Homo sapiens: one gene and its partner. The protein of the gene in region 1 purifies or fractionates together with the protein of each later gene. This does not show direct contact. Each region holds a gene or a part of one and is shown on either strand. Other genes may lie near its edges.

Region 1 (5,160 bases):
TTCCAGAGCTGCCAGGGAGGGTATGAGTGGTGGAGGAGGCGGTGAAGGGGCAGGAGGAGGAGTGAACAGGGTACCTGGCACTCCTTCCATCCAGAGCGCCTCTGCTTTGATGACTTCTGTGTTTTCTTTGGTAAAAGGGTTCCACTGCTGAAGAAACTATAAGCAAAAACTCTATTAAACTAGTCCAATTTCCTCACATTTCATATGAAATTCAGAGGGCCAGGGGACTTCTCCAGAGAGGCTCGGCTAGCTCGTGGTAGTCCCGGATAGAGTCCAGGGCTTGTGAGTTCCAGGCCATGGCTTTCCGTTGCTGCTTAACCTTCAGAGTCAAGGACTTCTTTGAGAATCTGAGGAAACATATTCAGTCCTTTTCTCTTGAAAAAAAAACTCAATGATAAATTTTGCATCCAATTTTAGAGAGTCCTCAGAAGTCCCTGAAGCTAATCCATGGACTCCTACTTGCCATAGTAATACTTCCGTTTGAATTTTGTCAGCTTTACCATTTGCCTTTTGTGGGTGGCTTTTGAAAAAGTATTGGTGGTTTAAAACAAGGGGTGGCCTGTTCGTTCTAAGCCGTTTCCCTTGTTGGCTTATGGCAGTTTGCCAGTGGGTAAGGGAACACATTGCTCAGTCTCATCCTGCCTGCATGTTGAAGACAGTCTCTCTTGGCAGGCTGCAAGATGAACAACGTTAATGTGGTATATACGCCGTGGTCTAACCTGAAGAAAACAGCTGACATGGATGTGGGGCAGATAGGCTTTCACAGGCAGAAGGATGTAAGTGTTTTGTGCCACTGAAGGAGGCGGAGCCCTGATACTGAATGGAGTATCCTATCTTTTCTGTCTGACACCATTGTTGTTGAGGGCTGAGCATGATATATGTTTTCTAAAGGGAATTAAACTGGGTTGCTAAACCCCTGGAAAGCCTCATCCCTCTTCTGGGAGAAAAAAAACAAAAAGATGCAATATCTTTTCTCCTATCTCCCTTAAAGGTAAAAATTGTGACAGTGGAGAAGAAAGTAAATGAGATCCTGAACCGATTAGAAAAGACCAAAGTCGAGCGGTTCCCAGACCTAGCAGCAGAGAAAGAATGCAGAGATCGTGAAGAGAGGAATGAGAAAAAAGCCCAAATTCAGGAAATGAAAAAGAGAGAAAAAGAAGAAATGAAGAAGAAGAGGGAAATGGATGAACTTAGGTATGTCGGAGCTGTGGCATTGAGACTGACCTCAAAGATTATTCCCTGATGATTTTAATCATGTATTAGCCATTAAGAACGATATATTGGTGGAAGGAGGGACATGTAACAAGCTCAGCTTAAGCTCAACCTTAAATCAGTTTTTTAAAAAAAGGCATTTATATTAATGTGTTGGTTAAAAGAATTGCTTGTTTATGGCAGCAGGATATGAAAGTGGATGAAATAAAATAACTAATTTTATTCATAGAGAAACCTTCATAGGTTATCCCTAGTTTGGTTTGGTTTGTAAAGTTCTTCTGGAAAGGAAAAGGTGCTGTGGGAGGTATTTACTATTGACTAGCTGTGCTATTTAAGTAAAGTTGTGTTGGCTCTAAAAACCAATGCTAGTAACTCTCAAAGCTGTTTTTAAAACTCTTTTTTACATTTTGAAAGTTTAAAGTAATGTAGTGAGGTCTGCTTCAAAGCACTACATTTTTAAACAGCTAAATAGTTCAAATACAATTTGGCTCCTGAAATTCTAGTGAAGAAGGCCATGAGAATAATGATTATGTTAGTTTTCTATTGCCATTGAAACAAATTGCCACAAATGTAGTAGCTTAAAACAACACACATTTATTGTCTGTAGATTAGAAGTCCAGCAAGATTCTCACTGGGCTAAAATCAAAGTGTCTGGAGGCACTAGGGGAGAATCTTCCCTTTCAGCTTTGAGAGGCACCCCCATTTCTTGGCTTGTGGCTCCTTCTCCAAGCTTTCCATGGTCACAGCCCCCTGTCTGACCACTGCCTTTTCTGCTTTTAAGGAACAGTGTGATTAGATTGAGTTAATCCAGATAATTCACAATAATCTCTCCATTTTAAGGTCCTAACTAATGACATCTGCAAAGTCTACTTTGCCATAGAAGATAACATATTTATAGGTTCTACAGACTAGAATGTGGATGTTCTGCCATACAGTGCTGTACCCGCAGAGCCCCTAGTTGTTCTAATTAAAGGAAATTAATCCTGCGAATTCTCATCACAGAACTCCTAGATTTTTCCATGTTTGTTTATTTGCAATACATATGCCAAAAAGAAAAAAGAGTTACTTATAACATATATTGCCTTTGGAAATGGTGTAGAATCAGAAACATGTTGCTTAGGCATGTCCTAACCCAGTTTCCTTGGAATGCCCTGGATTCTTAGAAAGATTGTTGGGTCAGAATGTAGGTATAATGAACACGTACTGTTATTTATTATTCGCATGCACGTGTTTCTGGTTGGGGTTCTGCTAAAACAGGCTTCACTTAAAATACAGTGTTCAAATGGAGAGCTTCAGAAATGTTACCCTGAGTTACAATCTGCTAATATGAGGCCAACTAACATATATGTTTAAGTATTTGGTATGGCCTAGAATTCTGAGTCTGCTTTGTGTTTGAAGTGAAAGAAACGGTATTAACTCCATCAGTGAGGTAAAATTTGTGAAATTCTGAGTGATGCAGGATTTAGAGCAGTTAATTCTTTTTTGTTTTGAGTTTGGAGTGGGGGGAAACTGAAAATATGCCTTTTAGTGCCCTTTACGGATCGAACATAATTTTGTTTAGGAACATGATGGAACATATATTAGGAACATAAGATCACCTAATTTACTTACAACATTGAATAAGGAAGACTAGCTAACCCTTCTGAACATTTTCCATCTGCCAAACACTGCATTGCAAAGTGCTTTACTGCATTCTGTCATTTAATTCCAACAATAGCCATAGTAGATTTTTATCTGCATCTTATAGAAGAGGAAACTGAGCCTGAGAAGCAATCAAGAAACTTGTTATAAGCTCATTTGGCTAGTTAGTCTCAGTCTGATTCTCAAACCTACACATATTACTTACTATACTCTTCTTCCCTTTGTTCAATTTATTCCATTTTAAAGTAATTTTTATTCAATATAAATCAATCAAGTAATTTATAGATGTCATAATTCAAATTAAGCTGCATGCTACTAAAATTAAGGACATTAGTATGATTTTTATGAGTTTCAAAAATTACAAGCATTTAAACAAAATTTGTCCACCAAAACACAGTTTCGTATCTTCTGGGCTTTTTTCCATAGTGTCATCAACATATAAAATACTCCTATTAACTGAAGGGAAAACTCAATCTTATTGAATAAGATTTTTCCTTCAAAAGTTTAATCAGTCCCACTTTCTAAGTTGTCACTGGTCATTTGTATTTTTTAATAATCTCCATGGATCTCAGAAAACCAAAAACAATTGCTATGTTTATTTCCGTTAACCGTGTGCCACACAGACAACTTTCTGTCACATGCTGCAGAAGACAGAAGAACGTGGCACAGGGCTGCAGTGCCGGGAATGGAACGCGGTGACATTGCAAGTCTTTGCTTGGCACATCCAGAGCTGCCGTTTGCTGTGTTCTGCAGCATCTGTGAAATTCCAGCAATAGGCTCTAAGCTTCTGACTTGTTTTGTAATGTGTTTTTATACATTTTGCAGTGCTAGCATTCACTTTAATTTCTGTCTTTGAATCTTCCACCCAAGATATAGAAATCTGTGTCTATTACCTGTTTTAATTTTGCATTCTTTTATTTGGCTTTTTGTGTTACTGTACCAAACATTTATTACATCAAAATTAAGTCAACCCATGTAGATGTCGAAACCAGAAGAAATAAGCAATAGTCAGGGAAACGTCATAAAGAGGATGGGTGAATAACAGATGAGAGGTTGAGGCAGTCAAAACAAAGGGTAAGGACTATGACTACCTGAGAGAGGGATATTTAAAAGTTGAGATGCGGCCAGGCAAAGTGATTCATGCCTGTAATCCCAGCACTTTGGGAGGCTGAGGCAGAAGGATTGCTTGAGCCCAGGAGTTTGAGATCAGCCTGGGCAACAAAATTAGGACTGTCTCTACAAAAAATCAAATAACTAGCCAGGCGTGGGTGGTACAAGCCTATAGTCGCAGCTACTCTGGAGGCTGAGGTGGGAGGATTGCTTGAGCCCTGTTGGCTGAGGCTGCAGTGAGCTCACTGCATTCCATCCTGTGTGACAGAGCTAGATTCTGCCTCAAAAAATAAAAATAAAAAGCTGTGATAGAGACTGGGAGATCAGAATTGGAACCCAAAGCTCAGGTAATTGGAATGAGAGAAGTACAAGACCCAGGTGAAATGGTAAGTCAGTAAATATATCATCAATTTGAACATTGACATGAACTTGATTTTCATGCAAAGATTACTTCAGCATGGAGGATAATGTGGAAAGATTGTAGCCTGTAACTGACAAAGCAGGAATCCAAACTCAAGTCTAATCCTGAAGCCAATAGTCTATCGTGCTTCCTTTGAGGCAAGGAATGAACAAACTGGCAAGGCCAGAGTCAAGGTCACACATAGGCAAGTGAAAGAATGAAAAATTAGGTACATTGTAGAGTGACTTAAAAGGTTTAGTCCAGAATTTCATGTTGTAAGTGATAAAGAGCCTTTATAGGTTTTGTGGAATATTGGGGAATAGACTTACAGGATGAATGAAGTAACATGTAGGAGAGGAAATGGTGAGACCAGTAACTAATTAAATGGATGACAGTCTCATGAAGAACCAACTTCTTTGTACCTTTTTTTGTTTATCTTATACACACTGCCACTGCCTTCTACTGTAAATAATGCTGTGTGTGCTGTGCCTCTTCGTGTTACCTGTGAGGTCCTTCAGGGAAGCAATCGTGCATCCTTGCCTCCCCTTAGAGGTGACAGAGTGCTTTGTCTGTGCAGTGAGTGACTAGTCATACGTCATGAATATACTGAGATTAGCTTCCCTGGTATGGTGATTCCTTTTTTGTTTCAATTTTAAAGTAATTTTTATTCAATATAAACCAAGTAACTTATATATGTCATAATTCATATTAAGCTGCATGCTACTAAAATTTAGGGTGTTAGTATCATTTTATGAGTTTCAGAAATTACAAGCATTTAAACAAAACTTAAAAACTAA
Region 2 (3,500 bases), on another chromosome or scaffold:
AAAAGTCTTTAATACGGTATCATTTGGCAGAGATTCTTAAAAATCCCATTTCACAGTAAATTCCAGCAATCACAACACCCACTGTGTGTTCAGTTCTTCAGGGTGGATTCTTGTGGCTTTCAGATGTCTGCAGAACAAAAGCATTTTGGACACAGTAACTCCAAGTGTTCACATGGAATGAGGGAAGTGAAGGAACGCAGGTTCCGCGTCTTCGTTTTGACCATCCCGCACTCTCGTGTTTTATTTTGGGTCCTCTGTTTCGACACCGGGAGGTAGGAAATCATGGGCCCTGGAGGCCCCGACTGTGCCCAGAGCCAGCCCACAGGATCTGACTGTCAGAGCGATTCTCAGAAGGAATGTGGGTAGTAGATTTTGTGTCGGGTCATTGCTAACGTCCATGTAATGTTACTTTCAGGATAAGTAACAACGATATGCGAATTTGAAGCTTTTGTTTGTGTGATTAAAACGCAACCGTAGCCACAGCAATTTTTTAAACTTCAATCAACAACAGATTTTCGGAGGAGGAATATGTTATTGCTGACTTTGTTCAGAGATACCGGCACACGGTGGTAATAAGCAAACTGACTTCTAGTCGGTTATGATTCCTAAATTCGCCACAGATAGTGCACCCCCTACTGCCTGCACCTGGTACTGGCTGCTCCCACCCTCGCACGCACCCTCAATACCCACGGTCACCCTGGAAGCCGCTACATTCTGGCTGGTAGAGTCGTGGACCCTCTTCTCCTTGGATCAGATGCTTGTTTTTGATGTCGGCTTGTTGTGGACCAATGTGAGAAGATGAGCTTCCTGGGAATTCATTCGTTTGCTTGTGGCACTAACTCTAGTCACTTAGGGAAAATATCGTTGCACCTGACTTCATCTCATGTGGCTGTGGGTAGACCTGTGCAGTTAGTCAGCTCCCGGCCTGGAAATTAACACAAAGGAAAAACCTGACCACACAGGCCTTCCCTAGAGGCCACAGCTGCACAGCCTTCAGGGAAGCTGTGGTCTGAGGGTGGCTGGTAGAACTGCCAGAGAGTAGGGCATTTTCCATGGCTCCAGATCACCTTCTGAAAATGCGACTATAGCCCCTGCCTATTCCCGGGGTCCACCTGGTCTGCAGACCCCATAATACCAGGAAGAGCTGGGTGTTCTGGCACCAGTGAAACAATACCTGGTTTTTTATTTTAAACCAGCCCATCTTCCCCGCTGCAGTTGGAACCGTTCTACGTGGATTTGGGATCAACCAGCAGGCCTTTCCTGAGCTGTTACTGTGTGGAGTGGGCGCTGAGGCTCCAGCCATTGATGCAAAGACCCCAATCCTGACCTGAAGGCGCTCACAATCTCTCCCCAACGGCCTGGTGTGAAACGCAGACGCAACGCAGCAGGCATTCTCCCCAGTGGCTGCCTGTAGAGCAAATGGTGCAGAAATGGTCACTCCTCAAAAAGCAAGCCGGCTGGAGCCAGCCCAGCTCCCAGTTTTGCAAGAAAAAAAAAATCACAGCTCCATTTTCAAAGATTTCAAGGGCAGCTCAAGACCAGCCTGGACTAGCAGGCCTCAAATGCATTACTGGAGACCCCTTTACGCTCTTAACAAGTACCGACCCCAAAGAGGCTTTTTGTATAACAATGTCTATTGATATTTACTCTACTGGAAATTAAAAGTGAGAAATTTATAACATGTATAATTCATTAAAAATAACATATAAATCCATTGCATGTTATCATAAATAATTTTATGAAGATAAGCATCTTCCAAAATGAAAAAATAATTTACTGAGAGAGTAGCATTGTTGTACATTTTCACAAATCCTGTCAGTGTCTGGCTTAATAGAAGACAGCTAGGGACCTTGCGTCTGCTTCCGATGTAGTCTATGGAAATGTGTTGTTTCAGTTGAACTGTATCAAGAAAATCTGGCCTCACGCATTTTATAGTTGAAACAGGGAAAAGGATTTTAGTACCTTTTTCAGCTAACTAACTATGAACATTCTTTGCTACTACACCAAAACTCAACAAGTGGTAGCTTCTTAAAGGCTGGTTATAACATGGAATCTGAAGCCTCATGAATAGACTTTTGGGCTCTGTGGCAGTTAAATCCGCTGTTCTCTCTCACTTTGAACATGTGGTTTTTCATGGAAAAATGAATGTTCACTTGAAAAATGTTGGTTCACAGAGTTCTGCAGAAATTCAAATTTTTGACACATTACATTATATAGTATCAAAAAATCACTTAATATCACCATCCATCTCATCAGAAAACTCATTATGAGGAAGTTGTCATGGTGATAGGAGAAAGTTTTTCAAAATTCTGATTTTTGCTTAAAAGCTCAAATGTATACCATTGGCAATAAATAATGTCAGCTGTTTCTGGAAGTAAGAGGCTCAGTTTGTTCCTTTTCTGGGAAATATCTGCCAGATACCTAAATCCAATTAAATGCCATTTGTCTGTCAGTTTTTCTTTCAAGTAAAGATGGTGTCGTGGCCAGAGTGGCTCATGGAGCTCAGAACTCCCCCAGCAATCACAGCTGAGCTTCTGCTCTGACCGACCACTGCCCGTCAGCAACAGCAGGAGTACATTATGAGTCACACGGAATATGGAAAATGTATTGTACCCAAGGGTTGAGAGTTTTAAAAATTAATTTTACTGCTTCAGCAAGGAAATTCTAACGTGAAATTGGCATTGGTTCATTTTCCCAGAGGGCACGGAAACGAATACAGTGGCTCCCGGACCTCTTTGGGACTGTGGCCTGATACTCCAGCACAGGGGGTGTAAGTGTCAGCCCCGTGAAAAAGGCAGAGACCGTCTTAAATCACTGCGAAAATGGTTTCTTCTATAAAAACAGAAACAACATATGGGGGCTGGTGAAACTTTGCACAATCAATCAGTTGAGCTGTATTTGCAAGCCCAGTCCTGGCTCCACCTGCAATTGGGAAGGAGCTGGCAGCTGTGACGGGGGAGACATGGTGTACAGTGAGCAGCCGTTTCCAGGCATTGCTGTGTGACCCATTTTGCACATGGTTTGATTCCAGATCGGAGGCCCTGTTTTTCCATTTAAACAATCCTGTGCTTTCTCAAACAGATTAGCTCAGAAGAGATGGCTTATTTTCAGTAGTACAAGATGGGTCATTTTCACTCAATTATAAAAGCAGCTCAATTTACATCTAAAAATACTTTGCACTAAAATTCAAAGCTTGTGTAATAAGATAAGGGTTCAAAAATGATTCAGTAAATTTCATACCCAAACCTTTACCTCTGAGGACCTGCTGTTAATTTAAAATATGAACTTGTGAATTTGATTTGGGAACCTGTAAAATGTAAAAATGTGTAACACTGTCAACCAGCGTATAGGAAACAGTGTGGACACTGCAGGAGAAGGGTGGCCCCTCTTTAGACCCAGGTTAACCAGGAGGTGTGAACTATTAACCAGGAGGTGTGAACTAGCAGGAGGGCAGAGGTGGCCCCTTCTTCTGGCGATAGACCTGGCAGTGACATGAAGGA

Evidence for each region.
Region 2: the proteins of CCDC25 (region 1) and NPEPL1 fractionate together in Homo sapiens (co-fractionation; one large-scale study listed by BioGRID). This does not show direct contact.

What each region holds. Positions count from the first base shown.
Region 1 is NC_000008.11:27,744,111-27,749,270, reverse strand, and holds part of CCDC25 (coiled-coil domain-containing protein 25), read left to right. Parts: intron 1-672; coding exon 673-776; intron 777-991; coding exon 992-1,194; intron 1,195-5,160.
Region 2 is NC_000020.11:58,702,800-58,706,299, forward strand, and holds part of NPEPL1 (probable aminopeptidase NPEPL1), read left to right. Parts: intron 1-2,698; exon of another isoform or gene 2,699-2,770; intron 2,771-3,500. UniProt on the Homo sapiens protein: Probably catalyzes the removal of unsubstituted N-terminal amino acids from various peptides.